Regions from separate parts of the Homo sapiens genome. Here regions 2, 3, 4, 5, 6 and 7 are each reported to be linked to region 1. Evidence: microRNA targets listed by miRTarBase, many of them from high-throughput screens and not tested one by one. Region 1 holds a microRNA gene; each other region holds the end of a gene's coding sequence.
The links. Region 1 holds the annotated microRNA hsa-miR-2053 (GUGUUAAUUAAACCUCUAUUUAC, at 2,973-2,995, shown strand). A microRNA usually pairs through its seed, bases 2 to 8, with sites in the 3' UTR of a target mRNA and lowers its output. Matches are read on the target gene's strand: a 7mer-m8 pairs with bases 2 to 8, a 7mer-A1 pairs with bases 2 to 7 and ends in A, and an 8mer does both.

Region 1 (4,080 bases):
TGCAAGTTTTGGTGTTTTTTTTTTCTCCTCTCTATAATTGGCAGCAATACAAGAGCCCTTTTAGAGGGGGTCTAAAAATTAAGTCAGTTTTTCAAATCTTCTATAGTATAAAATCAGTATTGATACTAGACAGATGAAAGGAAAATGGGATTTTGACATAGTAAAGAGAAGATGCTTTGCTGTCCAGATTAGCTCCTGCAAAATAATGTAAGGGTAGAAAGTTCAGATAAGTCAGTCTTATTTCTGCTATAAAGCTAAGAAAAAAATAGTTAGACAATAGGAGAGTAGATTGAATAAAAGAGAAATAAATCATCATGTATACTATATTATTTTTATTTTTTAAGAAAAATGTGCTTGTTCTGAAATACATAGAATGAATTATTTTAGAATTTCATTAATTAATTATCGGTGCCAACAAAGCCACTGTTAAGTATTATTTACCTTTCTGAGCCCTACTTTCTCCATATTTAAAATGGGGTTCTAATAGAGTTGTTTTGCAATTTAAATAAGGTAACAGGTAAATGACTTCGCACAGTGACTGGCACAGAAAGCGTTATTGCTATTGATCAATTTCCCAAAATGAGAGCTAATGTTTTTCCTGTTATTTAGCCCTGGCCAGCCGCTTTGTAAAAAGAAGCTGCTGTTCATCAAGTCATGGATTAAATGGTAATATTTGCTTTCTTTCACTACTGCAAAACAACTTAAGACCTTCAAAGTTGTGCCAAAGGTCAATTAATCCAAATAAGAAAATGATCCTGAGAAACTACTATATTCTAGTCATTATAGAATATAAATATTTAGAAGACTGTAAGTAACTCATGGCCTATTTGAGGAAAAAGGTACATGAACCAAAATTTTAATCATTCTGCCAAACTGGTTAATACAACTCAATATAGGAGCATAGAAATAGAGGTAACTAATTTGTCAAAGGGGTCCGTAGAGGGGTATAAAAATGACCTTCAAATGTAATGACAATCCAGGTCTGGTGGCTCACACCTGTAATCCCAGCACTTTGGGAGGCCTAGACGGGTGGATTGCTTGAATCCAGAAGTTTGAGATCAGCTTGGGAAACATGGTGGAATCCCAACTCTACAAAAAAATACAAAACTTAGCTGAGTGTGGTGGCATACACCTGTAGTCCCACCTACTCAGGAGGCTGAGGTGGGAGGGTCACCTGAGCCCAGGAAGACTGAGGATGCAGTGAGCCAGGATCAGCCTGGGTGACAGGGTGAGAACCCATCTCAGGAAAAACATAAAAAACAAACAAACAAACAAAAAACCCCAAAGCAATGACCTCCTAAATCAAAAAGGCAATGACTTTCAAAAGTGAGAAGTTTGTGATGGTGAGGACCTAGTATAGACATTTTGGAAAGAAGGGGATTAGACAGGAAAAGACAACCAATTCTAATAAGGCAGGGAGAAAAAGTCAGTGGTTTCAATATCGTAATTACTTCTAGTAAGAATGCTAATTCAAGATGCCCAATAAAGGTAATTTATGTTTATATATATATATATCTGTATGACTTGTACTTAAAGTCAAAATAGCGTTAATATCTAGGTTTTAGTTATAGTCATGCCACCAGCTATTACCTAAAGGGTGCCATTTGACTTTTTTTTTCTAATATGTAAAGTAATAGGTGTGGACTATGCTTTATTTAAGGACAGTCCAACTTCTAAAAGTCTAAGGGTTTTTCCTGATGTACATTTTTTTCTCTAGGTTTCCCGTAACTATTTATAATTAGCATCCTGACTTCTACAACGTGTTTAAGGAAAATCTCTCATGGTGTCCTTGTAAATAAGGAGCAATGTAGGCTGAATGACACTGTCGTTAACTGAGTTTGAAACTACTGAACAATTGTATGTGTTCAAACACCTTGACTTAATGTTTAATGGTGAAGAGATTACAGATGGTACATATACATTTTATTATTTCTTAAATATTTAGATATTTAGATTTATCCTTGTTAAGATTCTTATAAACCCTTAAAATACTAATGATCATAGTTATATAAGAACATCTGACTACACAATGTAAATGTAAATGAAATGTAAATCACTTCAAAATGATCTCATAGGAACTCTGAATCAAAATCAATATGATAAAGCATAACAGGGATACATATAAAAGCTTGCACTGAAGATAGAAAAAAGCAATTGCATAATTATAGAATTTTAAGAATTGAATTTATCTGTATTTTAAGTCCCAGTAATCTAAAAAGATGATTTAGATTACTACAAACTTCTTATCAATTAGTATTATAACATGGCAGCAAAAAAGTTAATTAACACAAATACTGTCTTCTTCAATGAAAATAATTTTAGTGTTACACTGTGCCATGATGTGTTCAGTTTTAGAAAACCACATTTTAAAGAGATAAGCTGGAATGCATCCAGAGGAAGTTGATTAGAGTGGTGATGAACATGAAAATATTATCTTATGATGAATTAAAGAAACTAGGAGTGTTTAGTCTGGGAAGAAAAGACTTGGAATCATGATCTAGGGATAGAGGACATGAAAAACATGGTAGTCTCAGAATGGTGAGTTGATGTGTTTGAGGAGCTTTTGGTTGGAGCAAGGATTAGGCTGCCTTTTTTGGTATAGCTCCAGAGAGCAGAACAGGGATAACGGCTGCAGAATAATTTTTAAACAATCAAATATGGAAAAAATGAGGAATTTGTCCCAAGGAGTACAGTCCTTATCAACAGAAATACCCATAACAGGCCAGTTCATCATGTTTCTGAAACACCATACGGAGAAGCTAGTTTTCTGAGTAAGAGGTTAGACTATATTACCTTGAATATTTCTCCCAACTTTGAAATTTTCCTTCATGTAAATTTGCTACACTTTGGAAGAGTTGTACTTCAGACAAACTTAGTTGGCTCTTAAAAGAAAGGCATCTACGTCCGCATCTCTTGCCATGTAAATACAGATTTAATTAACATTTGCAACCTGTGAAGATGCAAAACTTTAAGTGTTAATTAAACCTCTATTTACATAGCAAGCAGTATGTAGCCCTCCACTCCCTTCTATAATATCAGGGAGCTTATTTTAAACTCTATTAATCTATTGCACACTGGGATAATGGGACACTTTGGTTAACTTCCAGCAAAGAGTCTTCTATTAATAAAGATTGACAAAAATCACAGTTTACAAAGTCTTCTACCTCATTCCTGCTATTCAGTACCAGAATACTCATTTTAACAACGCTTTTTCTCAGTAATATTTAATTCATTGTAGAAATTTAACCAAACTAGTCCTGACATAATTCTCACCTCCTGATAAAATATATATGTAATTTAATCAAAGGCAAACTTTATTTCTGAAAACGCAAATTTAAATGTATTAAACACAAGCTTTTAGTTTTAATGGTAATAACATCTTCTCATTGCTAAAAGTATTTTGTTTTGACTTTTTCTTTTTTTAGATTTTCTATATTAAAATCAATAAATATATTTTAATAGTAAAATTCAATAATATAATACATCAACAGAGCTAAAAAAAAGTACTTTTCAAAATCAGATTTTAAAATGAATAAACTAGCTCTTTTAGAAGATCAACCCATGGAGATTTTCAAGTAAATAACTTTAATATATTTTTTGTTTTCATATATTAGAATGGTCATTTTACCATTCATAAGTTGTTACCTTGATAAATTACACTGTATCTTGATAAATTTGAAATACATACTTATACACTTCTAATTATAAGCAATATTTGCAAAAATGGATGGTAAATTAAACATGAGTAATTGTTTAGCAGTCCCTCTTATTAAGCAGTAAGAAAACGAATTATTAATCATGCAAAATTGTTTGTTATAGATTCCTATAGGGATACATGTCATTCTTTACAGATTCCTTTCAAAACAGTGAAGTAGGTTGTAAAAGTTTTATGAGTGGTTGAATCTCATGAATGAACCATGTTTAATACTACAGAGCCTTTTACTTATTTGTTTATTTGTAAAAGGACATTTATTAACATCTACCTTATGCAGAGTGCAATTTTACACTCTATGTGAGACATATCTATAGCTCTGTACTAAAGAATCTGAGACACAGATATTTATAGAATGGCTATAAATT
Region 2 (4,080 bases), not on the chromosome of region 1:
TTACAGGTGTGAGCCACCACGACCAGCCCCTTCATGGCCATTTTAAGGGTCTCAACCTTTCATGCCATTACCATGGCAATTAAATTTCAACATTGAGTTTTGGGTGGGACATTCAACCCATAGCATTTGTGGACTCTCAATTCTCTTCCCACTGATCTGTCTCCATCCCTGTGTTTTTCCTCCTGGTTTTGTTTGTTTTCGACAGGGTCTCTGTCACCCAGGCTGCAATATAGTGGTGCAATCACGGCTGACTGCAGCCTCAAACTCCTGGGCTCAAGCAATCCTCCCAGCTCACCCTCCCAAGTGGCTGGGACTACAGATGTGTGGCACATGCCTAGCTAGAATCATCTCTAGATTAGTCATAATACCTAATACAATGTAAATGCTATCCAAATAGTTGTATATTAACATTTGTATTTTTAAAATTGTTGTATATTTTAAACACTTTCCATCCAGGGTTCGTTGATAAATGGATGCAGAGCCCATGGATACAGAGGGCCAACTGTATCATAAAGACAACACCTTTAAATGTGAAATATATGTGCAAACAGGGAAAACAGAGAAAAAGATGGGGTACATCATAATATAAAGGGCAGATTCATTTAGACATTTAAGTATCTAATTCCTCCAAAAAGGCTAAAAGATACAGTGATGCAGTGCCATTTAATGAGTTTTTTAAGGTTTCAAAATCAAGCTCAAATGCTGTATATTATTGACATTCACCATTATTCAAGAAAACCTTTAATAATATTCTTTATATTATAATGTGATCAAAGAATAAAAAAATTTTCATGAAGGGCTGGTTTACAAAATAGAACTCTGTCTAGGGTCTGAGCCATTTTTCTCATACCCGTCCCATTCTCTCTCTGTAACAGCAGTGGGAGGAGTGACAGAGCTCGCAGGTTAAGACAGACACGCAGGTGTTGGTATCTAATGCACTGAACTGTGGAAGTTATGGGAAGTTGTTTTCTCTTTTTAAAAATAAAATTAGCTGGGCATGGTGACTCATACCTGTAATGTAATGGCAGCACTTGAACAGGCCATGGAGAATCACTTCACCCCAGGAGTTTGGGACTAATCTGGGCAATATACGGAGACCCCATCGCTACAATTTTTTTTTTTTAATTGGCACAGCATAGTGGTGCGTGCCTGTAGTCCCAGCTACTTGGGAGGCTGAGGTCGGAGGACTGCTTGAGCCCAGTAAGCAGAGGAGATTGCAGTGAGCCAAGATCCTGCCATGGTATTCTGGCCTGGGCAACAGAGCAAGATGGGAAAAAAAAAAAAAAAGATATTATCAAAAATTTAATATTTAATGCACACGTTTCCCATGGAAATATGCAGGAGAGGAAAACTGACATTCCAAAATCAGCCTAACTGAAAAAGACCAATTATATGAAGCCTGTGCATGTATGAACAAAGAAAAAGTTAAAGTTTTCTAAGCTCATTCTGCAAAATGTTAGAAATACGAAGACAGAGATCATATAGTGCAGCGGTCCCCAACCTTTTTGGTACCAGGGACCTGTTTCATGGAAGACAATTTTTCCACGGACGGTTTGTGGGGGTAGAAGAATGGGGATGGGATGTTTTCAGGATGAAACTGTTCCACCTCAGATCATCAGGCGTTACATTCTCATAAGAAGCGCACAACCTGGATTCCTCACATGCACAGTTCCCAATAGGGTTCGCGCTCCTATGAGAACTAATGCCACCGCTGATCTGGCAGGAGGTGGAGCTCAGGTGGCAATGCTCGCTCACCCGCCACTCACCTCCTGCCATGCAGCTGGGGGGAGCTGGGGACCCCGATATAGTGTGTATGCCATGTTAAAATAATTAAAACAGATTTGGATTGTGCTGTCCTTTTAAATTTTAATAAAATAGATTAATTTCATATTACATAGAGAGCAAGTCCATCCATTCATCCGTGATAAAATTTTAGAAATATTTTCTATAAAATGTTTAGTATTTAATTGGAAATGAATCCAGTATAACATGACTTCCACAGATACAGCATTCCCATCCTCACTCCCATTCCTATTTTGAGAAATTTTAAAAATACAGAAAAGTACAAAAAATAAGACAAGATATCCCTATACCACAATCCAGAATCAATCAGTATCTTCTTATATTTACTTGAAGTCTTTTGAAAGAGAAGTGGATGTTTATATAAAAAGCTGAAGTCCCCTTTAACCAATACCCATCCCACCTCCCACACTCATTATTTTCCCTTCTCCACTCTTCACAGGTGACCACTATCAAGAGTTTGGTCTGTATCCTTCCAATCCGTTTCAAAAACATGTACATACATATATGCATCCATTACCAATAGATAGTACTGAGTTTTATGAGGAAACTTTTAATTCAAATTTACAAAAAAGTCATTGTACTATCTGTATCATTCTGCAACTTGATCCCCCCTCAACAATTCTGGGATCTTTCTGTTAATACATGTGGATTTCATTTGTTGCATTTTACAGATATATAGTATTACATAAGAATTTCCCATATTGTTCGTGATGGGCTTTCTCAGTTGTTTCTAATTTTTGGCTACTACAAATCAAGCCACAGTAAATATCCTAGTGCGTATTTCCTGAGCATTCATACTCATAAGTAGAACCGCTAAGTATTTCTCAAATTGTTCCAAGGAATGTTTCCCTATTCCCAAGGTCATATGCATTTTAGTACATAGCTTTTCCATATTTCTGTTTTTAATCTCTGGATTCACTTTTGTGTATAGTTCATGGTCTATTTTTCCCCCTTGGAGAACAAACTACCTCCACTTAAAAAAAATAGTTCCATTATTTCCTCATTTCCTGATGCCACTTGTATCATATTCCAAATTCTAATAAATGCATAGGTCTTTTTTTGAAATCTCTTCTGCTCTGCTCAATCAATACCACAGGAGTCTTAATATTAGTTGTAGATGACCATGTCATCTATTTTTGTCTGTTCCTTTCCAATATTTACAACTTAATTTTTCTTGTTACTGGCGAAGATCTCCAGATCTATGGTGGTAGCAATAAAAAACAGGCCTCCATTTTCTGTTCCCACTTTTAGTGAAAATGTGCCTAAACTTTCACCATTATCTCTGCTGCAGGTTTCTCTGTTGGACACAGGGTTTTAATCATATGCATGTCTTTCTCTTCAGTACAAATTTTCTGGTGTCCCTTAAGTTTTTAGTACTTGTTAAAGTTAACCTCATTCGTGGTGCTTTGCTTCAGAAGGATTATTTCTGGGGCATGATGAGGTGCAAATTTCTAATGAAAGCTTTCCCACTTTCAAGGCTTTCATGGGGTTTTTAGTGAGTATGAATTTTCTGGTGTCTAATGTGGTGTGACTTCTGGCTGAAAGCTTTCCCACATTCACTGCACTGATAAGGCTTCTTACCTGTGTGTATTCTCAAATGCAGAGCAAGGGTTGAGAACTGAGAGAAAGCTTTCCCACATTCATTACAACCATAGGGCTTCTCCCCTGTATGGCTTCTCACATGCACAGTGAGAGATGAGCTCTGAGAGAAGGCTTTTCCACAAACATTGCATTCGTAAGGTTTATCACCTGAATGAATCCTCACATGTACAATAAGTGATGTTCGCTGAGAGAAGGCTTTTCCACATTCGTTACATTCATAGGGTTTCTCTCCAGTGTGAATGTTCTGATGTTTTATGAGGTACTTCTTCTGGCCAAAGGCTGTTCCACATTCACTACATTTAAAAGGCTTCTCTCCAATATGGATTTTCTCATGCTCAGTAAGGTTGGATTTGCCACTGAAGGTTTTTCCACACTCCTTACATACAAAGGGCTTCTCTCCTGTGTGAGTTCTCTGGTGTCTGATGAGGTTTGACTTCTGAATGAAAGCTTTCCCGCAATCTTTACACTCAAAAGGTTTTTCTCCAGTGTGAATTTTCTGGTGCGTAAGGAGGTTTTCCTTCTGGCTAAATGATTTTCCACATTCATTACATTCGAAAAGCTTCTCGCCAGTATGGGTGTTCTGATGTTTAATGACATACTGCTTTTGGCTAAAGGCTTTTCCACACTCGTTACATTCAAAAGGTTTCTCTCTCGTGTGAAAATGCTCATGCTCAG
Region 3 (4,080 bases), not on the chromosome of region 1:
TCTGACTGCGAGCTGTCCTCTCTCCCGCAGGCCTGCTGCTCTTGGTGAGCCTGGAGGTGTTCCGGCATTCCGTGAGGGCCCTGCTGCAGAGAGTCAGCCCGGAGCCTCCCCCGGCCCCACGCCTCACCTACGAGTACTCCTGGTCCCTGGGCTGCGGCGTGGGGGCCGGCCTGATCCTGCTGTTGGGGGCCGGCTGCTTTCTGCTGCTCACACTGCCTTCCTGGCCCTGGGGGTCCCTCTGTCCCAAGCGGGGGCACCGGGCCACCTAGAGCCACGCGTGAGACTTCTCTAAGCAACCACCGAGCCCTTTGACCTTCTCCATTGTACCCCCAAGATCTTTTTGCCCCATCTCCTAGAGAAACTGTGTTCTCCCTGCTCGGGGGCCCATGTTTTTTTACACGCCTGCCTCCTGTCCCCTTATCCTTTCTCCCTCTGTAAATACGTTTTTCTCTGTGGCTGTATGTGGGTTGCTTGGGGGTGGGATGGGAAGAGGCTCTTTGCAAACGAGGGTCCCCAGAGAAGACTGGCGGGGACCTGATGGGGTAGCTGGGGTGTGGGGTTGGGGGATGAGGTCAGGGGGTCTTGGGTGGGAGTTGGGGGCCCCTTCATTTCCCAGGTCTGGATCGATTCACTTGCCGGGAGAGACTTTTTACAACTCATCTGCAGCTCCGGGTGCGGTTGGGGGAGATAGCGAAGGGTCTGGCCTCGCTGTGATCTGATTTGGGATTAAAGGTTTGGAAATTTAACAACTTTGCTTTGGAGTCTATTTGTGATGTGATCGTGCATTCTGGGGTAAAGAAAAGTGACCCCATATTCCCTCCAGAAACATACCCTCCAGAAACACTTTTAAGCCCAGAAGTCACATGAAAACGAACCCATACACAATGGTTGAGAGTGTGGAAAACACAATATATTTTTTATTTTTATTTTTATTTTGAGACGGAGTCTTGCTCTGTCTCCCAGGCTGGAGTGTAGTGCTGCAATCTTGGCTCACCGCAACCTCCGCCTCCTGGGCTCAAGTGATTCTCCTGCCTCAGCCTCGCAAGTAGCTGCGTTTACAGGCACGAGCCACCATGCCCAGCTAATTTTTGTATTTTTTTTTTTTTTTTAGAAGAGACGGGGTTTTACCATGTTAACCAGGCTGGTCTCGAACTCCTGATCTCAAGTGATCCACCTGTCTCAGCCTCCCAAAGTGCTGGGATTACAGGCGTGAGCCACCGTACCCCACCCAGATTTCCCCTTTACACATGACTCCTGTCATACGTGATTAGGATTTACCCCCAATGACCTTATTTTAACTTGATTATCTCTGTAAAGACCGTATCTCCAAATGAGGTCACATTCTTAGGTACTGGGGGTTAGGGTCCAACATATATATATATATATACATTTTGTAGGGGAGAACATTCAACCATTAACAGTGTATATATTCTAAATTGTGTTTTCTGGTCGGGTGTGGCGGCTCACGCCTGTAATCCCAGCACTTTGGGATGCCAAGGCGGGTGGATCACCTGAGGTCAGGAGTTCAAGACCAGCCTGGCCAACACGGTGAACCCCCGTCTCTACTAAAAATACAAAAATTAGCTGGGTGTGGTGGCAGGCACCTGTAATCCCAGCTACTCGGGAGGCTGAGTCAGGAGAATTGCTTGAACCTGGGAGTTGGAGGTTGCAGTGAGCCGGGATCTCGCCACTGCACTCCAGCCTGGGTGACAGAGCAAGACTCCGTCTCAAAAAAAAAAAAAAAAAAAAAAAAAATCAAAAAGGTGGGGGGAAGGGGGATTGGTTCAGGAAAGCCTTCCGAAGAAGATGACGAACTTGAGTCTTCAAGGTGAGTAAGAATCAGAGAAAGTGGAGAACGTCACGGGCGTTCCAGCTGGGTGGGAGAGCCTGGACAGAAACAAGAGGAAAAACATGATGAACCTGTGAGTGAGGAAATGTGAACGCTGGTGTTCAGAGTGAGACACAGGAAACGTGAGAGGGTTGGGGTGGGCTGTCTTATGAACAAGGTGGAGAGACTCAGATGCTCAACAGAACAGCTTGGCCTTTACCCTGAGGGTACTGAGGAGCCATGGGAGCTTGCTGAGCAGAGACACACTGGCATCAGGTCAAGGGGTTGAAACAAGGTTTCTTATTCTTGAAGTCACTAAATTGCAGACCCGGAAGACAGACTAGTGGTTGCCAGGTGTTAAGAAAAGGGTGAGTCTTGGCCCCACGCGACGGCTCATGCCTGTAACTCCAGCACCTTGGGAGGTCGAGGCGGGTGGATCACCTGAGGTCAGGAGTTCGAGATCTGCCTGGCCAACATGGTGAAACCCTGTCTCTACTAAAAACAAACAAACAAACAAAACAAATCAACAACAACAAAACATACAAAAATTAGCTGGGTGTGGTGGCTCACATCTGTAATCCCAGCACCTTCGGAAATGCCTGTTCTAATTTAGGTCCATGGGCACAGGCCCTAGGGTAGAGCCCTTGCCAGAGACCCTGCCCTTCTCTACCCAGCAGTTCTCTGCCCCCCTCCCATATCAAAATGCTTTTTCTGCATCTATTGAGATGATCATGTGATTTTATTTTTATTTTTATTTTGCAGTCTCACTCTGTCGCCCAGGCTGGAGGGCAGTGGTGCGATCTCGGCTCACGGCAACCTCCGCCTCCCGGGTTCAAGCAATTCTTGTGCCTCAGCCACCCCAGTACCTGGGATTACAGGTGTGCGCCACCAGACCCAGCTAATTTTTGTATTTTTAGCACAGATGGGGTGTCACCACGTTGGCCTGGCTGGTCTTGAACGCCTGACCTCAAGTGATCGTCCCACCTCCGCCTCCCAAAGTGCTGGGGTTACAGGCGTGAGCCACCGCGCCCAGCTGACCATGCGATTTTTGTTTCTAATTCTGCATTCTTCCATTCAACAAGCAGAAGTGCCCCGCAGTGCCTGGGCACCTGGGAGCCAGGCTGGTGTGAAAGCCCAGCTCCCCGACCTATGGCTGGGGCAACAGCTTCACCTCTCTCTGTCTTCGTTCCTTCATCCCTAAAGACGGTGCGTGAGCTCAATCCTGTACCTACTCCCAGGAGTCACCGTCGGGAGTAAACGCCATCATGAGCCCTGCAAAGCTCCCAGGAGACCGCCTGGCACGTGGTCGCAACTCGATCTGCCTTTGCTGTTAGTTTTTCTCAAGTGGCACTTACAGAGTAAACAGGGACCCCCGACGACGAGCTGACAGCCTGCTGATGGAAACAGATACTAATCACATCACTGAAGTAATGAGCGTGCAATTATAAACCAAGTTAAGTGCTAGGAGACAAGAGAGTCCACAATTTTTTTTTTGTTGTTTGACTTTGTGCCCAGCCAGGTCAGGGAAGCCTCAAGAGACATCTGCCATGGGGGTGGCGGAGATAGTTGGTCTTGGGGGAATGGCCCTTCCTTCCTTCCTTCCTTCCTTCCTTCCTTCCTTCCTTCCTTCCTTCCTTCCTTCCTTCCTTCTTTTCTTTCTTCCTCTTTCTTTCTTTCTTCTCTCTCTCTCTCTCTTTCTTTCTTTCCTTCTTTCTTTTTCTTTTTTTTTTTTTGAGCCGAAGTCTCGCTCTGTCACCCAGGCTGGAGCTCGGTGGTGCAATCTCGGCTCACTGCAAGCTCCACCTCCCAGGTTCACGCCATTCTCCTGCCTCAGCCTCCCGAGTAGCTGGGACTACAGGCGCCCGCCACCAAGCCTGGCTAATTTTTTTGTATTTTTTTTTAGTACAGACGGGGTTTCACCTTGTTAGCCAGGATGGTCTCGATCTCCTGACCTCATGATCCACCCGCCTCAGTCTCCCAAACTGCTGGAATTACAGGCGCGAGCCACTGCGTCTGGCCTCTCTCTCTTCCTCCCTCCCTCCCTTCCTTTCTTCCTTTTTCTTTCTTTCTTTCTTTTTTCTTCTTTCTTTCTTTCTTTGTTTCTTTCTCTTTCTCTTTCTCTCTTTCTCTCTCTCTTTCTTTCTTTCTCTCTTTCTTTCTTTCTTTTCAAGATGGAGTCTCACTCTGTCCCCCAGGCTGGAGTGCAATGGCACAATCATGGCTCACTGCAGCCTCGACTTTCCAGGTTCAAG
Region 4 (4,080 bases), not on the chromosome of region 1:
CATTTCAACAATTAAAAACTTTTCACACTTAATTTATGATTCCAAATTGTTTCATATCTTATCTCCTTAATATTTATCATGTCATCCTTAAATTATTCGTTCTTTCCCAAAGTATTTCTGCTTTAGATATTTACTTTTACTTTTGAGGCAGTTTTTAGGTATTCAACTATATTGCTGTGTGAGTTCAAATTCCCCTCAGGGTATAGGCTACTAGTCTGGAAGGCACAAGGGACAAGACTGTCAAGGAGAGGAGGGGACAAACTTTGGGGCAAAGAGTTCTAGGAACTATAAGCCCACATGTAATCACTCCCATTCAGTATCAGTATCATCCCCCAAAGCCACAACTTATTTCAGGGCCTTGCCTTTATTTCCATCGGCTTATTAGTGCTTTTGTACTGCCTTAATATTACTCTTGCAGACACCTGCACTAGTATTCTGGCCTGTGGCCTTCATTTTACAGTAAGGGGTTCAGCTATGGTTGTCCCAAGGCAGGGGTTGCCCTTTTCTCTGTAAAGGGCCAGATAGTAAACAGTTTTTTGGGTTTTAGGGCCATAAGGTCTGTGGCAGCTATTAAGCTCTGCCATTATAGTGGGAAAGTATGGCTGAGTTCCAATAAAACTTAATTTTTAAAACTGGTTCCAGGCTGCATTTGGTGGGAGGGCCACAGTTTGCTGGCTCCTGTCCCAAGGCAAAGGTATAGTTAGGAGTGAGGACGCAAAAGCAGAACTTAAGATGCTTTTCTTAATATGTCCTATTACTGCCTCCACCAGGGGATGTATCTTTCAAGTTGCAGCCCCTCTCCCCCACCCCCCAACAATACCCCCATCAAAAAAAGAGTCTTTGACTCCCTAGGAGTTCCTCACATTTGTTGTTGTTATTTTTCTGGATTCTGTCCATGTCTGCTTTAAAGGTCTTCCCAGAGAGGGAGAAGTAAATGCTAATTCACCATCTTGGCAGGAATGGGAAACCAGGTCAATAATTGTTTTCTTTCGTGTTTTATTTATATATTTTTGGCAGCAAAATTGTGTTTATTAAAAAAAAAACCTGGACTATGAACACACTTCAATGCTTTGAAGAACTCCAAGCCAAATAAAAAGACCAATCAATATTAAAAGCAGTATAACTGGTTACTTTCTTAAAAATACATAAAAAGAATCAAATGCAACAGTGTAGGAAGACAATCACACCCATGTCAGAAGTCACAACTTCTTCCAAATAAAGAATATGACCCATCTGCCATATTGAATCAATATTTATTTCAGGACATGCCATGTCAAAATAAAACAAAGAGTCAACCCTTGCCTTTAACAATTATATTGTATTATAAAAGCACTTTACAACTCCATCCCATCTTTAAGTATAAGTTACTGGTATGTGGGCTAATGATTATCTGTAAGCATTTCTCTATTCAGATCCATAATCCAAGTGCTCTCTGAATATTACAAGGTGACAATAAGTGGGAAGTGGAGGAGGAAGAGGAAAGAGAGGGGACTAAGGTTCTCCCAGTTTAAGGTTTTGTTCCAATGAGGGGATGAGGAAGTATGAAGATATTTTTGTTGTCTTTTCATCTTTATACTGTGTTAAGTAATGCTTACAACATAAATTCAGCAGGCTTTTCCTGAGCTGTAACTCAGAAGTTTTCGTCCTGCAAACAATGTATTTACAAATGTGTTTATTAGCTTACACAGCAATCTCACAATAACTAGTAAAGATTAAAAGGGCACACTCCTAGTATATTTGTTTGCAGTGTTTTAAGGGAAATACATATTGCCATGGTGAAGCTCTAAATAGATTCAACGAAACATCTGAAGATTGAAAGTTGTTAAAAAAAAAAAAGGCAAAGAAATAAATATCACCAAAGAAAAAAGATTAATTGTAGCTTAAATATAAAACTAAATCACCAGTTAATTAAACTATACAGATCTAATACAAACCAAAACCAGCCTGAAAGACCCAACCTTAAAAAATGCTAAAAAATAAGGCATAAATCTGCATAATATTGAGTTTTATTTCCATTCTCTCCTTTCCCTCTACTATGTATGCTTTACCTGATCTGCCTCTAGGGGCTTACAAGAAAACGGTTTCCGGTTTCCGTCTTCAATTTGACCTCAAATGTCCTGAGCAAAGTTTTTGTTATTCTGCTGAGGGTTCTTTTGTTGGTAAGCTTTAGACATCATTATTTCTACTAATTCAGTAGTTTTGATCGTAGCGCCAAATTTAAATTCTTCCACTGGTTCTTCTGGAAGGAATTAAAACTTTTACAGTGCCTTGCCTGCACAGTATTATGTTTTTAAAAAAGAAAACCCAAGCAAAATCTATTGCTTAAAGAGGTTTCTTATTTTTTAAACAAACAGAATAACTCTTGACAATTTTAAAACCTTGGGAGAAACAGTTCATTAGAACTTCATTTTCTTACCGTGAAGAATTAAATACTAAAAACCTGTTCTGAAGCACTTGGTTAATTTTCTCTCCCAGAGTCTAATAAAGCACATGTGAAAGAGCCATTTGTTTTAGTCAGAAATACATCTTATGTTCTTCTACTTCTAAGTACTCAGTATGTTCTTTAGGACTCATTTTGAAGATGCACCAGGAGCCTTTTCTCATTCAAGCACTGCCTACCATGATGGCTGAATTTTGACCTCAAAGAAGACCGTAATTTATATCAGTGCTCAAGAATAATTTTGGACATCTTGGTCCGTAGCCTACAGCAAGTGGTATCTGTAAAATTAAAGGATAATTCCAATGGGCTTGGTAGAACTGCTGCTTTGCCATCTCTTGTTTGTTTTGAGGAAGTCGGGGGAGGCTAGGTAAGAATAGGGTAATAGGGAATGGGGGTAAGTGAGAGGTGAGAAAAGCAAGGAGAGATAAAGTAGGCTGTGAACATACCGCTCGTTAACCAAGCCATACTCATACTGTTGAGATTTCCATCATTTTGAAGTACATTATCATAACATTAAAAAAGAAAAAAATGTTAAGAAAATGTATCTAATTTTTAAAGTTATCACTGGAATATGCTGAAATATTTTGGCTTTTTGTAAAATATAAATAATGAAGACACTGACTTTTGTTGTGCTTGTGAAGCTAATAGATCATCTCCACGAGACAGGCAGCAATGATGAATTGCAATACGTTATTACTGAAGGGAAAAGGTTCAAGCCAATATTCACACTGCAGTCAATGAAAGAGTAAGGGGGCCAAAGCAGTGAGCTTCTGAAGAAGGTTGAAGATGACATGGGAGATTAGCAGGAACAGCCTCCTTCACTGACTGGTTGCTCCTGAGGCTTTTCCAGTTTTATGTCAATCACTGAAACAAAAGTTAAGAAGCCATAAATGGGAAAGTACAATTTCAATTCTTCCAAACACTAGCATTTCTGGGATGGCCCTTATATTCCTATCTGTCTTCAGAGCCTACACACTCACTATTTTCTACATAGCCGCCTCACCATATAAGGTGCTCAAATGGAATAAACTTGTTTATATCTACTATATGCAACAAGGGTCAGAATGAGGTACAAGCTCTATTTATGGGTATCTATCCTAAGGAACTTATTCTACAGTGGCAAGAAGTGATATGAAGATGATGTTCCTCATAGAATCATCTATAATATAAATCTGAAAATAGCCTACAAGATAGTTCCAACAGCAGAGGAAACATTTAGTAAATAATGGGACTTCAGGCCGGGTGCCGTGGCTCATGCCTGTAATCCCAACACTTTGGGAGGTTGAGGCAGGCCGAACACCTGAGGTCAGGAGTTCAAGACCAGCCTGGCCAACATGGCGAAACCCCATCTCTACTAAAAATATAAAAATTAGCTGGGCATGGTGGCTCATGCCTGTATTCCCAGCTACTTGGGAGGCTGAGGCAGGAGAATCACTTGAATTCAGGAGGCAGAGGTTGTGGTGAGCTGAGATTGCGCTGCTGCACTCCAGCCTGGGCGACAGAATGAGACTCCATCTCAAAAAAAAACGGCGGTGGGCGCGGGGACATACTTCAACTCAATAGAACATTTTTTGTTGTTGTTGTTGTTTTGTTTTTGAAACATATTATGTTTTATGTTGTTGTTGTGTTTTTTTTTTTGG
Region 5 (4,000 bases), not on the chromosome of region 1:
TAAACAAGGAACACTTGGATTGGCAAGAAAGATTTCACATAATTTCCATTTTACTATGCCACAATAAGAACATAAGGCTAGGCAGTTTGTAATTGCTTTGTGAATACACAGTGAAAGAGTCTATTACCAAAAATGCCCTACAAGACATACAGTATGAAGGACAGTTCAGAGTTTATTTTATTTTTTAATTTTCATTCTTCATTGAAACACTTTGTCTTTTCAAATCTTTTCCTCAGAGAGACCCTTCGAGAAGTGCTCCATTTACTGAGAAGCACAGGTAACACCCAAGTAGAATACATGATCCGGATCATGAAGAAATGGGCCAAAGAAAACAGAGTGTCCATCTAAAATAGCGCCAGCGTCCTAGGAACCAGCTTCTACTTTGACATAAAACTGGAAATCATTTTCACTCCAGTTTAATCTGTGATACAGGGCTCTGTTTTATTGACATTTTCCTTCCTTGCTCTTTAAGCCTCAAGGTCAGAGACTGACTTGCTGAGACTTAGTCTCCTGGCTGAACAGAGTGCCATAGTCTGTGACCCTGTATGATCCTAGTAGCAATAAGATTTTGGACTTATCTGGTGCCTTTCTTCCAAAAATGCTCAGAGTACTTTTATGCAATTTACTGACTTTAAGGAAAACAGTATAACTTTTTTTTGTTAGCATTTTATGGCATTGTCTCCTGGCTGCAATAACAAACATCTTTGATGTTCAAGAATCAGCATCATTGTATCATTTAACTTTAAGGCGTCTCTGTACGTTATCCCATTTTATTGGGGAATTCCATAAAGGGTTTTATAACGTCATCTCTGAATCTTGGGAGAATAACTAGCTATGTGTTTCTAAGAAAGGCAGTAAGCTACTTTATCAAACTGTCCAGTCATTAATAGGATAGATTTATGGGATTACTCTTTCAGTAATTAAATTGTTGATGATAATAACATGTTACAGCGCAGTAAGATGAGTATTGCAATGTTTTAAAAGGTGAGTACTATGAAAAAAATTGTAGTACCTCTAAAGGTATTCAAGAAACAATGTTTATGAATCTCACTAGTCCATTATAGTTTGGTACCATAATTATTTTAGGTAACAAAGCAGGTTAGGTTTTTGTTAATGTATCTTGCTTAACAAACATCAGTTTTTGTTGTTGTTGTTGTTGTTGTTGTTGTTGTTGTTTTTGAGACGGAGTCTCGCTCTGTCGCCCAGGCTGGAGTACAGTGGTGCGATCTCGGCTCACTGCAAGCTCCACCTCCTGGGTTCACGCCAGTCTCCTGCCTCAGCCTTCTGAGTAGCTGGGACTACAGGCACCCGCCACCGCGCCCGGCTAATTTTTTGTATTTTTAGTAGAGACGGGGTTTCACCGTGTTAGCCACAATGCTCTCCATCTCCTGACCTCGTGATCCGCCCGTCTCAGCCTCCCAAAGTGCTGGGATTACAGGCATGAGCCACCGCGCCTGGCCCAAACATCAGTTTTGAAAGTAGGGCTACAGTGATTTATATGTATTGTGGGCACTTATTAATGTAACGATAATAAAACATGAATCGTATAAAGTCCTTTGAGGGAATCTCCTAATGGCTAGGCTCTCTGTCGTAAGTCATATTCCAGCCCCAGGCTTCTGAGCTCTTATAACATACAACTGAGCATTCTTAAGCTCACAACCTATTTCCAGAAAAGAGACCCACATCTTTCTATGTTTTATACTACCTTTGTTTTTACACCATATAGTTTTTTTCTATTAGTTTAAGGTACCTAGTGTTACAGGTCTAGAAAGTGCAGAGCCATCCCTACCTAGAAGAGAATAGATGGGAAGAGAACTGAAAGAAAGAATTCCTCAAGCACTGAAGTCAGGAAAATCCCCGTAGGCACTGTATTAGTTGTTCCATTTATCCCAGCACTCCACTTGTGGATGAAGGAGTTGTATAGAAAGGAGATGAGAAAATGGCAGGAGTGGAAGCAGCCAAGAAGAGATCGATGACTGAAGATCTCCTTCACCTTCAGGACTGTCTCAAGGGGTTATTTCACCTCTACTCATGAGGATGGCCAGTTTTTCTGTCTTTTATCTTTAGACCCATATATAATCAGTTCAGAGCACAAATCAAAATAAACTGGCCTAAATAACTGAATTCTAGGAAGCAAAGCTACATCTTTTTTCATATGCCAAAGCTTCTGTTTCCTCATGTTGTTCCTACTTTTTAAATAATAAATGGCTCTCAGCATCTTAGGAACTAGATGGGTCCCATCTGGGTAGAACCTGCTATAATTTTTAGAATCACTCTTGTAATTCTTACCTCACTTAAAATATTAGGAAACACAGTAATAGAAAAGACAGGGAGAACTCGTCTGCAGGTTTTGGCAGTGAAATTTGTCTTCCAGTGAATTGCTATTATTTTCAAATTGCCTATAGTCAAAAAGCTTTTCCATTGATGGAGACTTACTTTCAAATGAGCTTGTGTTGAATTCAGCACTCTAGATTCTCTCTGACATTTTCCTGTCTTTTGGGAAAAAAAAGCAGATATTCCAAAAATGGCAGAAATCTAATTTTTGTAAACTTTTTCATCTATAGGATTGAGCCAAAAAACATACATACTATTTTAAAGAAAGGTACCATCTAATTCTTTTATTAAAGATAGCTACTTCTGAAATGTCTTAACAGAGTTTCAAGATTGCAAAGTAGTATTGCATAGCTGGTTTTCTTACATGTGATGATGGAGGAGAGAGGAAGACCCAGACTTAGGCATGTAGTGAAATATGTACAGTTTCTGGCATCAGTGTACTATTTATAGTCTATAGCATACATTACTTGCAAATGGGAAAAGTATTTTATAATTATTTTTGTACCTCAAAATAATTATTATATTCTACTGTATTATATTCAAATTAAAGTTTATTATTTGATTCTTAGTATGATATTCTGTTGAGTGTGATGAGGGTGGGACCTAAGTATGTCATGTGCCTTCTACCCTTTCTTTCCTAGCCCTAGAATGAAAGGAGAGAAAGTTTTGGGCCCCATAAGTTACTCTTTAGAAGAGAGAAAAGTACATATTCCCCAAGAAGCCCTTTCCACTAAGAGGCTGGTAGTTCCTGCTGAATCATACTAGGCTTGGCTCTTTGCTGAATTACAGCCCATTCAGAAGTTATATGACCAGTGCATAGTGTAGTACCTCACACATAGAAAGCTCTCACATACTTGTTGACTGAATAATTAAACATACAGTAACTGGTAGGGCAAGTGACTTGTGAAGTCTAACCTCATATATTCAGTTCCCATTGAATTATTATTTTATTGTGTGCTAAGCATATGCCAGGTACTTGGGCTGCAAAGATAAATAATGCACAGGCCTGACTCTCAAGGAACTCTAACAGAAGTATACACAACTAAACACAACAACGTGATTGATATCATCAGTGGGAATAAAGTATTGAGCAATAAAAGAAGGCAATGGAATGTTTGTATCCGTGTAAATGAGATGCCCCCTGCCTCATTTGGGAGAAGCAATCAGAATGGATCCCAAAGCTCAACAGCTAGCAAGATGCCCACAGCTCTGCCATGTGTGCCACACACATCACATGCATCCAAGTAGACGGAAGCCAAGGGACTGCTTTCCTCCTCTGTGGCTTAGTGCACTTTCAGAAAGGTGCTAGCAAACAGGCATGATATCACAATAGTTACATCTACTTTCTAATGGCAAAAATGAAGTAGTGATTTACTAGATCCTGTATTGAGAACATCTGTGTCTTAGATGAATAGTTGTCTTACGACTCTTTTCTTCATCCTATAAAATACTTCTAGGCTGGGCATAGTGGCTTATGCCTGTAATCCCAACACTTTGGGAGGCTGAGGTGGGAGGATCACTTGATGCCAGGAGTTCGAGACCAGCCTGAGCAACATACCAAAACCCTGTCTCTACAAAAAAAAAAAAAAATTTTAATTAGCCAGGTGTAGTGGCACATTCCTGTCATCCCAGTTACTTGGGAGGCTGAGAAGGGAGGATCACCTGA
Region 6 (4,072 bases), not on the chromosome of region 1:
AGTGCTTCCAATTTGGTTCCTCTATATCTAAATCCAAAAGAATGAAAACTCTGTAGGGGATGACATCAGGAAAGCAGCAATGCTGCCATAAGGTTTTTTTCCTTTTACTCCTGTTTGTTAGGACTCGGCTGCTACAGTAAATCACTGAGCATTTCTAGAAATTTCATTACTTTTTAAATTTTATTCAGATTTTGGCTTTCACTATCTGGAAATTGTTTTTTTTTTTTTTTTTTTTTTTGTCTGAGATGGAGTCTCACTCTGTCGCCCAGGCTGTAGTGCGGTGACGTGATCTTGGCTCACTGCAAGTTCCACCTCCTGGGTTCACGCCATTCTCCTGCCTCAGCCTCCCGAGTAGCTGGGACTACAGGTGCCCGCCACCATGCCCAGCTAATTTTTTTTTTGTATTTTTGGTAGAGACGGGGTTTCACCGTGTTAGCCAGGATGGTCTCCATCTCCTGACCTCGTGATCCACCCGCTTCGGCCTCCCAAAGTGCTGGGATTACAGGCGTGAGCCACCGTGCCCGGCCTATCTGGAAATTTCTTAACATGAAGCCTTTTCCCTCCCCAACATAGAAGAGCAGCATTGGACCTTGCTTAAATTTGATACTCTTCTACCCCCTGGACGATTGGACCATTCCATGTGTATCATTCCATGGCCAGTGACGTGTGCTTCTGAGAAAGAAGATTCCAACTCTCTCACTCTGAACCATGAAGCTGAGAAAGAGGATTCAGCTGACAAAGTAATGAGCCACAGTGGTGACTCACATGAGGAAAGCCAGACTGCTACACTGCTCTGTTTGGTGTTTGGTGGGATGAATACAGAAGGGGAAATCTATGACGATTGTATTGTGACTGTAGTGGACTAATAAAACCCACATTTTTATTACCTGTCAGTTACTTTCAGAATAGTTAAGTAAAACATTAGCTGTTTTATACCTCCAAAATATCTTCTGCATTATATATCTGTTTTTCTCCTACTTTGGTAGGTGAAGAAACTAATGCAAATAATTCTTATGTGCACTAAACCTTGCTATATTGCCTCTCAGAGCTCTTGGGAATGACTTTCAGTGACTGGTTTGCAAACTGTGGTAGATAGATAAGTTTTGCCCAATGCAAAAACCTCCACTGCATTAACATAAAAGGCTTTGGGCCAGGCTTGGTGGCTCACGCCTGTAATCCCAACACTTTGGGAGGCTGAGGAGGTGGATCACCTGAGGTCGGGAGTTCAAAACCAGCCTTACTACCATGAAGAAACTCCGTCTCTACTAAAAACACAAAATTAGCCGGGTGTGCTGGCCCATGCCTGTAATCCCAGATACTCAGGAGGCTGAGACAGGAGAATCGCTTGAACCCGGGAGGCGGAGGTTGCGGTGAGCTGAGATCACACCATTGCACTCCAGCCTGGGTGACAAGAACGAAACTCTGTCTCAAAAAAAAAAAAAATATATATATATATACATATATACACACATATATATGTATACATATATAGTATATTTATATGTATACATATATATGTATACATATTTATATATACATGTATTTATATATGTATACATAAACACATATATATGTATACATATATATATATATAAAAGGTTTTGCCAACAATACAAACCTAGGTAGGTGTGATTTGTGTATTAAATGCTAATCACAAAGTTGCAATATGGTTAGGGTTAAAAAAGAAGTTGCAGAATTATAATTGGTAAACAACAAACTATAGACATCAGACACATAGTTGAAGTCTATCTTTTTAATATTCAGTAACAGCTCCTCAGAAAGAGTTACAGACTAGGTGGTCCACGGTAGTGAGAGCCTTTGAGGTAAGGGAAGACTAGCCCTAGTTGCTAACTACCATTTAACCCTATTGCCCCAGGGTACACAGCACTGTAGGTCATCTTTAATGGCTGTATTGGGCTTGGCCTGAGACCAGTATTCTGCTCAGGGTCTGCCCAAATGCTTTTCGGGCAGTGCAGCTGAGGCCTAGGTCTAATTAAGAGTTTGGTGTTGGGATCCAGTTCTACTAGCCCTAGAGAATTAACCTTTCAGCCAGTTGCCCATCTATAAAATACCTATCCTTGGGCAGTATTGGATTCTTTTTTTTTTTTTTGAGGTGGAGTCTCACTCTTGTCGCCAGGCTGGAGTGCCGGGCTGGAGTACAGTGGTGTGATCTCGGCTCACTGCAACCTCTGCCTCCCGGGTTCGAGTGATTCTCCTGCCTCAGCCTTCAGCTTGCACTACCACGCCCAGCTAATTTTTGTATTTTCAGTAGAGATGGAGTTTCACCATGTTGGCAAAGATGGTCTCTATCTCTTGACCTTGTGATCCACCCGCCTTGGCCTCCCAAAGTGCTAGGATTACAATATTGGATTTTATGTTAGCACCAGCCTGTCCTTTATTGATCATACCATTTACCTGGACTCTTTTCTTCAGGAACACAATCTAAGTAATCCTAAACCAGTTTTGACACAAACCATTGCCTTTAACAACCCATTCATAGTGAGGGGATTTAGTGTAGTTTCAATGTCACCATCCAAGATCCCACCCCAGTACCACTAATGAGAAATTTCAGGGATGGAGATTCTGACACAGCTAGGGTTCACAATATACCTTTACATCCTAAAGTTACAAATGAAATCCAAGTGTATAAAGTTAATACCAGTGATCACTCACTCCCCATCATTTCTCAGAGAATCCAAGCAGCTATAAAAGCATCATTAGTAATAATTTTAAAAAAAGCCACCAGAAAGGCAGTTTTAGAAAGATAAGGGGAAATAGGAAACCAAGTATGTTCAAGAAAACCCCACTCTTGGGCACTGTGAAATGCCCCTTGCCTGAGTAAAGATGTGGATTAACTTCTCTCCCCTTTTCTTAGATTAATGCAAAAGCCGAGCATGGTGGTAACAAGCCTGTGGTCTCAATTAGCTGGGAGACTGAGGTGGAAGGATCACTTGGGCCCAGGAGGGTTAAAAAAAAAAAAAAAAATCCCTGGAAGCATTAAATAGAAGTGTTTCCTTATCCCAACATACCAAATACTCCCTCCCCTCACCCCACACACGAGTATCTAGTCTTAAATTTCCTAAAATAAGTAATTGATCTAATTAGAAGCTTCTCACAAACATTAGACCAGTGTAAATAACAAACATTTATTGGTGTCACTTATGGTAGAAAAAACTTCCTACACCAGATGCACATGACCCAGTTGTTAAATAGAACATTTTGAAGGTGAACACACACCCTAACCCAGGTTTTTTACCCGCTTTTTAAGATGGCCAATTCTTCTTCTCCCCCCCACCCAAAGACATGTGAGCAACTGCTAATGAAAAGCAGTAAACAGCCGCTTAGGCTATAGCAGTTTCAACTCCACTCTGAGGTGAAGATTCCAATTACATTCGAGACTTAAGTTCTTTCAATTTTTTCCTAACAAAAGTTCCTGAGTCCAGTATTTACAATATTACAGCACTAGCAGATCAGTGTCTACAACTCATCTTTTTCTGCTGTATCCTCTTCACCAGTTGGGGGAGGGCCTGCACTTCCATAGAGTTTGCTGATAATTGGTTGAACAATTTCTTCCAGTTCCTTCTTCTTAGCTTTGAAGTCTTCAATGTCAGCATCTTGGTGGCTTTCCAGCCATTCAATCTTTTCTTCTACAGCTTTTTCCATGGTCTCCTTATCTTCAGAGGAAAGTTTACCTCCCAGCTTTTCTTTATCTCCAATCTGATTCTTTAGAGAATAGGCATAGCTTTCCAACTCATTTCTAGTATCAATGCGCTCCTTGAGCTTTTTGTCTTCCTCAGCAAACTTCTCAGCATCATTAACCATCCTTTCGATTTCTTCAGGTGTCAGGCGATTCTGGTCATTGGTGATTGTGATCTTATTTTTGTTCCCTGTACCCTTGTCTTCAGCTGTCACTCGAAGAATACCATTCACATCTATCTCAAAGGTGACTTCAATCTGTGGGACCCCACGAGGAGCAGGAGGAATTCCAGTCAGATCAAATGTACCCAGAAGATGATTGTCTTTTGTCAGGGGTCTTTCACCTAGAAGTTACATACAGAAAAACTTGTTAGTT
Region 7 (4,080 bases), not on the chromosome of region 1:
GAGATGTAATCCTAAAGCAATGTATTAATTTAAAAAATTACCACAGCAGAAAAGATGCCTCTATGTGGGTATGGTCCTTCCAAAAGTCAGCTTAAAAGTCAAGCATTTATTCTAAGCATTCTGCTACTACTGTTGTGCTCAAACTTTTGGTATAACTTAGAGACACTTATGAGCCACATAAAAACTAAGTCCTTTGTTTTGTTTTTTTGAGATGGGGTTTCCCTATGTTACCCAGGCTGGACTCAAACTCCTGGGTTGAAGTGATCCTCCTGCCTTGGCTTCCCAAGCAGCTGGGACTACAGGTGTGTACTGCCATGCCCAACATGTCTTATTTCTTTATAACTGCACTTCTTATGTGACCCCAAACTCAGCTTAAGCATCCTTTTCATTGATCAAACTTGGATCCTAAGGACTATTTCCAAATATTTAAATTTATTCTTAAAGGCCAAGATTGACTGCCATTGGGAATATTCAAAAGAATGGGGGTACTGGCCATTCAAGCAGCTCACACAAGGAGGGCCCCACATGTTTATAGCACAGGCTGTATCAACGGAATAAGTACATGGGCTCACAAGGTGACTGAAGGACCCATCATCCAAGAGGATGTGTCAGTTCTGATGTGTTTTTTTTAAATCATCATTTCACCATTATAGTAATATTACACAAAGGCATGAAGATGAAACTTCAGGTGTAACTTTTTTGGGGGTATTACTTTTTAAAGTAATGGTTTTATTCATAGGCCGCAAATCCAACTTTGGCTGCAGTTTTTTTCTTTTTTTTTTTTTGAGACGGAGTCTCGCTCTTGTCACCCAGGTTGGAGTGCAGTGGCACAATCTCGGCTCACTGCAACCTCCACCTCCTGTGTTTAAACGATTCTCCTGCTTCAGCCTCCTGAGTAGCTGGAATTACAGGCCCTGCCACCACCCCCCCGCTAATTTTTGTCTATTTTTTTTTTTTAGTAGAGACGGGGTTTCACCATGTTGGCCAGTCTGGTCTTGAACTCCCGACTGACCTCAGATGAACCACCCGCCTCAGACTCCCAAAGTGTCAGGATTACAGGCGTTAGCCACCGTACCTGGCCTGCTCCCAGTTTTTACAAGATGTTAATTCCCAATAATCTGAGAGCAATGTGTTAATATGAATATTAATTCTTCTAAATGAATATTCATCCTTATTTCCTACTTGTATAGGTGGATGAATAAAGATCCAATAGTATAATAGAAAGACTATTAGTAAGAATGCCGGAAGGTCAGTCTCATGCAGCCTGGTGAAATAAAACAAACAAACAAACATGAATTCTAGAGCTTGTGTTGTCAGTAACCAGCTGTGGGGTAAGTGTAAGATTTAATCTCTCTATTCCTTAAGTGTTCCCATCCACAAAGTAAGAAGGCTGGATGAGGTGTGTCAATCCTAGCACATTAACCTAAGTCATCCCCCAGGTTGCCTAGACCTGTCAGGAGCATGGCCTTATGAAGATACAAACATGAAATCCTGGGTTGGACCCCTCTATAGTTTCTGATCACCAAACACAGTAGGAGCCCAGTGTAAAACAGGTTCTGGATATCTCCCACGATAAACTTCCCATGTCCCTGGAAGAGCTGTACCATTGTAGACACACTTTAGCTTCAGGCAAACAAATTTCTGGTGTACCCAGAACCATTTTCTTAAACCATTTCCATGGGTTTTTATTTTTATCTATTTATTTTTTGAGATGGAGTCTTGCTCTGTTGCCCAGGCTGGAGGGCAGTGGCGCGATCTCAGCTTACTGCAAGCTCCGCCTCGCGGGTTCACGCCATTCTCCTGCCTCAGCCTCCTGTACAGGCACCCGCCACCACGCCCGGCTAATTTTTTGTATTTTTAGTAGAGACGGGGTTTCACGGTGTTAGCCAGGAGGGTCTCAATCTCCTGACCTTGTGATCCGCCTGCCTCGGCCTCCCAAAGTGCTGGGATCATAGGCGTGAGCCACCGCACCCGGCTCCATGGGTTTTTAAATACAGCTGTCAACTCTCCTTTTCCTCAAGTATGAAGTCACATGTTAAAAGAGGCTGTCCTTGGCTGTGTTTGATAAAGGGAGTTAGGCACTTGTTTCATCTGTTTCTTCCTCCAGGAAATAAGGTTAACAACACAGGTGGTGAAAGCCCAGCAACCTCCGATTGCACAAGGATACTGATGCCATGGCTTTGCTTTTCAGCCACAACTGGGAATAAAACTGGGAGCTCTGCTGAGGCAATTTTGCTGCTAAAAATGTACAAATGCCTAATTAGAGTTACAGGACCTACCAGAAGATGAGGACTTACAGTAACTAGCCAATACTACATTTACTTAACTTCTTTATAAACTATCAAACTGGAAAGTTACTCACAACTTTTGGTCTTTCAAAATTGTTGCCACCTCTTGCTTTGCTTCCATTTTGTCAGCCTGTGCTGCCAGTGGCTTTTAGCTTCTCTGGGTCAGTTGTTTTACATTATTACTCCCCTTCCTACAAAGGAACGTAAAGCTTGCCCTGAAACACCCAGAAAGGGTTCATTCTCTCTCTCCTTCTGTTATTTGCATTATCATGGTCAACAAATGCTTTCACAAAAACATTCCAAGCCACACACAGCCCTCCTCCTCCTTAGACATTCCTTCCATTTCCCGAGGGGGGATGGGCCCTGGAGAGGTGGGTGATTAGACCCTAACAAAGACAGGGCTCATGGTTATCCTTAAGAGGTAGACCACTGCACAGTTTAGATGGCCAAATTAAAAGTACAGAATCAAATTGCTGTTTGCAGTTCTTATCACTATGAATCTAACACTGAAATTCACATCTTCCCAAAGTACCTCAAATAACAAGAATAAAAATGCCAAGAATGAAGTTAGTCTAGGCTAATCTTTCCGAAGTGTAAAGAAGTTATAATCCCACAATTGAACACATTTCTCAGAGCTTTGTATGTTCTCTTTCCAGTTCAGCCAAGCTCCTGGGGTCTAGTGTTTAAAATACTCCAATTATATCATCTTGTGCGGACTGAAATTTTTTTCCAAAAGACTGGAAAAGTGACTAGCGATTCAAATATATAAAACAGTTTGTAACTTAAAAGATAGAAGTGAAGACTACCAGTACAGTAGGTAAAGCTGTGTGCATCCACAATACAAAGGATCAGACTCCAAGATGGATGGCTACTACATAACAATGCATTCTGGGTTTCTTTGTGATACCTGGAGAAAAAAAAAAGCCCGACTGGGTTGCACTATATTTACATGTTTACTGGCTTCTTCCTGGCTAGCACCACTCTTCCCCCCAACCCCCAACATTTTTAAGCTACTTATTTTAAGTCACAGGAATATTCAATCTAAGAAAAGCATCTTATTAGAGTAATATAATTTCTTAAAGAAGATAGCATATTTACACACATCTAACACATGAAAATACTCTATTTTATACTAAATTCCAGGTTCAAATGAACTACAATACAACATTTTGCCTTGTCTGTAGAGTGAGGATTGTTCCAAATGGGGCATATGTTTGGCTGCCCCTGCAGTGACTCACTACTGTCAGACAAGTCCAAATCGGTCCCCTAGTTGGGGAAGGAGCAAGGTTTGGACTGAGAGTTTCTAGCCAGTTGGGTTACACATCCACTCCTTTGATGAGTGATCCTTCTAGGACTATGGTGAAGTCCTGAATGGTCTGCAGAATTCGGATAAGGGAGTTGACAGTCATGCGGTCTCGCAGGAGAGCGCTCTCTTCATACATTCGAGTGATGGCAGGACACTCAGCTAACAATGGAATCCACTGTGGGAGCAGGCGATCCCTACAGACCCAAACAGAAACAATTCCTGAGCATTGCTGGCCTCGCTGCAGAACAAGGCACACAGTGGAGTCTGTATGAATGGGAAGGTGTGGGACTTGATGGTACAAAATGTATCCAAGCTAAGAGGTCAGGAGAGAGGAAATCAAAGCCAAGAAGTTGAATATTTTCTGGTAAAAAGACAGTGATGAGACAGTGTAAAGAAAGCTAAAGGGAAAACCCATTATTTTAAACCCAATTTAATGTACTTTAAGAGTTTAAAGTACATTAGAAAGTCTATGCACATTAAAGACAT

Region 2: miRTarBase lists ZNF146 as a target of hsa-miR-2053. Seed matches in the 3' UTR shown: 7mer-A1 at 3,181-3,187 and 7mer-m8 at 2,437-2,443.
Region 3: the mRNA of CACNG6 is a reported target of hsa-miR-2053. The part of its 3' UTR that is shown has no 7-base or 8-base seed match.
Region 4: miRTarBase lists RAB6A as a target of hsa-miR-2053. Seed matches in the 3' UTR shown: 7mer-A1 at 1,820-1,826.
Region 5: the mRNA of IFT56 is a reported target of hsa-miR-2053. Seed matches in the 3' UTR shown: 7mer-A1 at 1,125-1,131.
Region 6: miRTarBase lists HSPA5 as a target of hsa-miR-2053. Seed matches in the 3' UTR shown: 7mer-A1 at 3,203-3,209.
Region 7: the mRNA of DENND5B is a reported target of hsa-miR-2053. Seed matches in the 3' UTR shown: 7mer-m8 at 1,131-1,137 and 7mer-m8 at 1,102-1,108.

The regions. Positions count from the first base shown.
Region 1 is chr8:112,640,581-112,644,660 of GRCh38, forward strand. It overlaps MIR2053 (microRNA 2053), which reads left to right and starts at 2,913; the gene lies at 2,913-3,003. The region is part of intron 20 of CSMD3 (CUB and Sushi multiple domains 3); the gene reads right to left.
Region 2 is chr19:36,236,535-36,240,614 of GRCh38, reverse strand. ZNF146 (zinc finger protein 146) reads right to left here. Exons shown (of 4, transcript NM_007145.3): 4 at 1,847-4,080. The coding sequence ends at 3,296. It also overlaps a transcript of ZNF565 not described here. Among named protein-coding and RNA genes, the nearest start is that of ZNF146, 23 kb to the right of the region's middle. RefSeq lists a silencer at 4,041-4,080.
Region 3 is chr19:54,011,921-54,016,000 of GRCh38, forward strand. CACNG6 (calcium voltage-gated channel auxiliary subunit gamma 6) reads left to right here. Exons shown (of 4, transcript NM_145814.2): 4 at 31-746. The coding sequence ends at 269. Among named protein-coding and RNA genes, the nearest start is that of CACNG6, 22 kb to the left of the region's middle.
Region 4 is chr11:73,674,659-73,678,738 of GRCh38, forward strand. It overlaps RAB6A (RAB6A, member RAS oncogene family), which reads right to left. Exons shown (of 8, transcript NM_198896.2): 8 at 980-3,304. The coding sequence ends at 3,240. Among named protein-coding and RNA genes, the nearest start is that of PLEKHB1, 30 kb to the left of the region's middle.
Region 5 is chr7:139,189,085-139,193,084 of GRCh38, forward strand. IFT56 (intraflagellar transport 56) reads left to right here. Exons shown (of 18, transcript NM_024926.4): 18 at 237-2,902. The coding sequence ends at 348. Among named protein-coding and RNA genes, the nearest start is that of UBN2, 40 kb to the right of the region's middle.
Region 6 is chr9:125,233,115-125,237,186 of GRCh38, forward strand. It overlaps HSPA5 (heat shock protein family A (Hsp70) member 5), which reads right to left. Exons shown (of 8, transcript NM_005347.5): 8 at 1,739-4,040. The coding sequence ends at 3,478. RABEPK (Rab9 effector protein with kelch motifs) reads left to right here. Exons shown (of 8, transcript NM_005833.4): 8 at 574-1,047. The coding sequence ends at 866. Among named protein-coding and RNA genes, the nearest start is that of HSPA5, 6.2 kb to the right of the region's middle.
Region 7 is chr12:31,383,999-31,388,078 of GRCh38, forward strand. It overlaps DENND5B (DENN domain containing 5B), which reads right to left. Exons shown (of 21, transcript NM_144973.4): 21 at 1-3,788. The coding sequence ends at 3,605. Among named protein-coding and RNA genes, the nearest start is that of LINC02387, 17 kb to the left of the region's middle.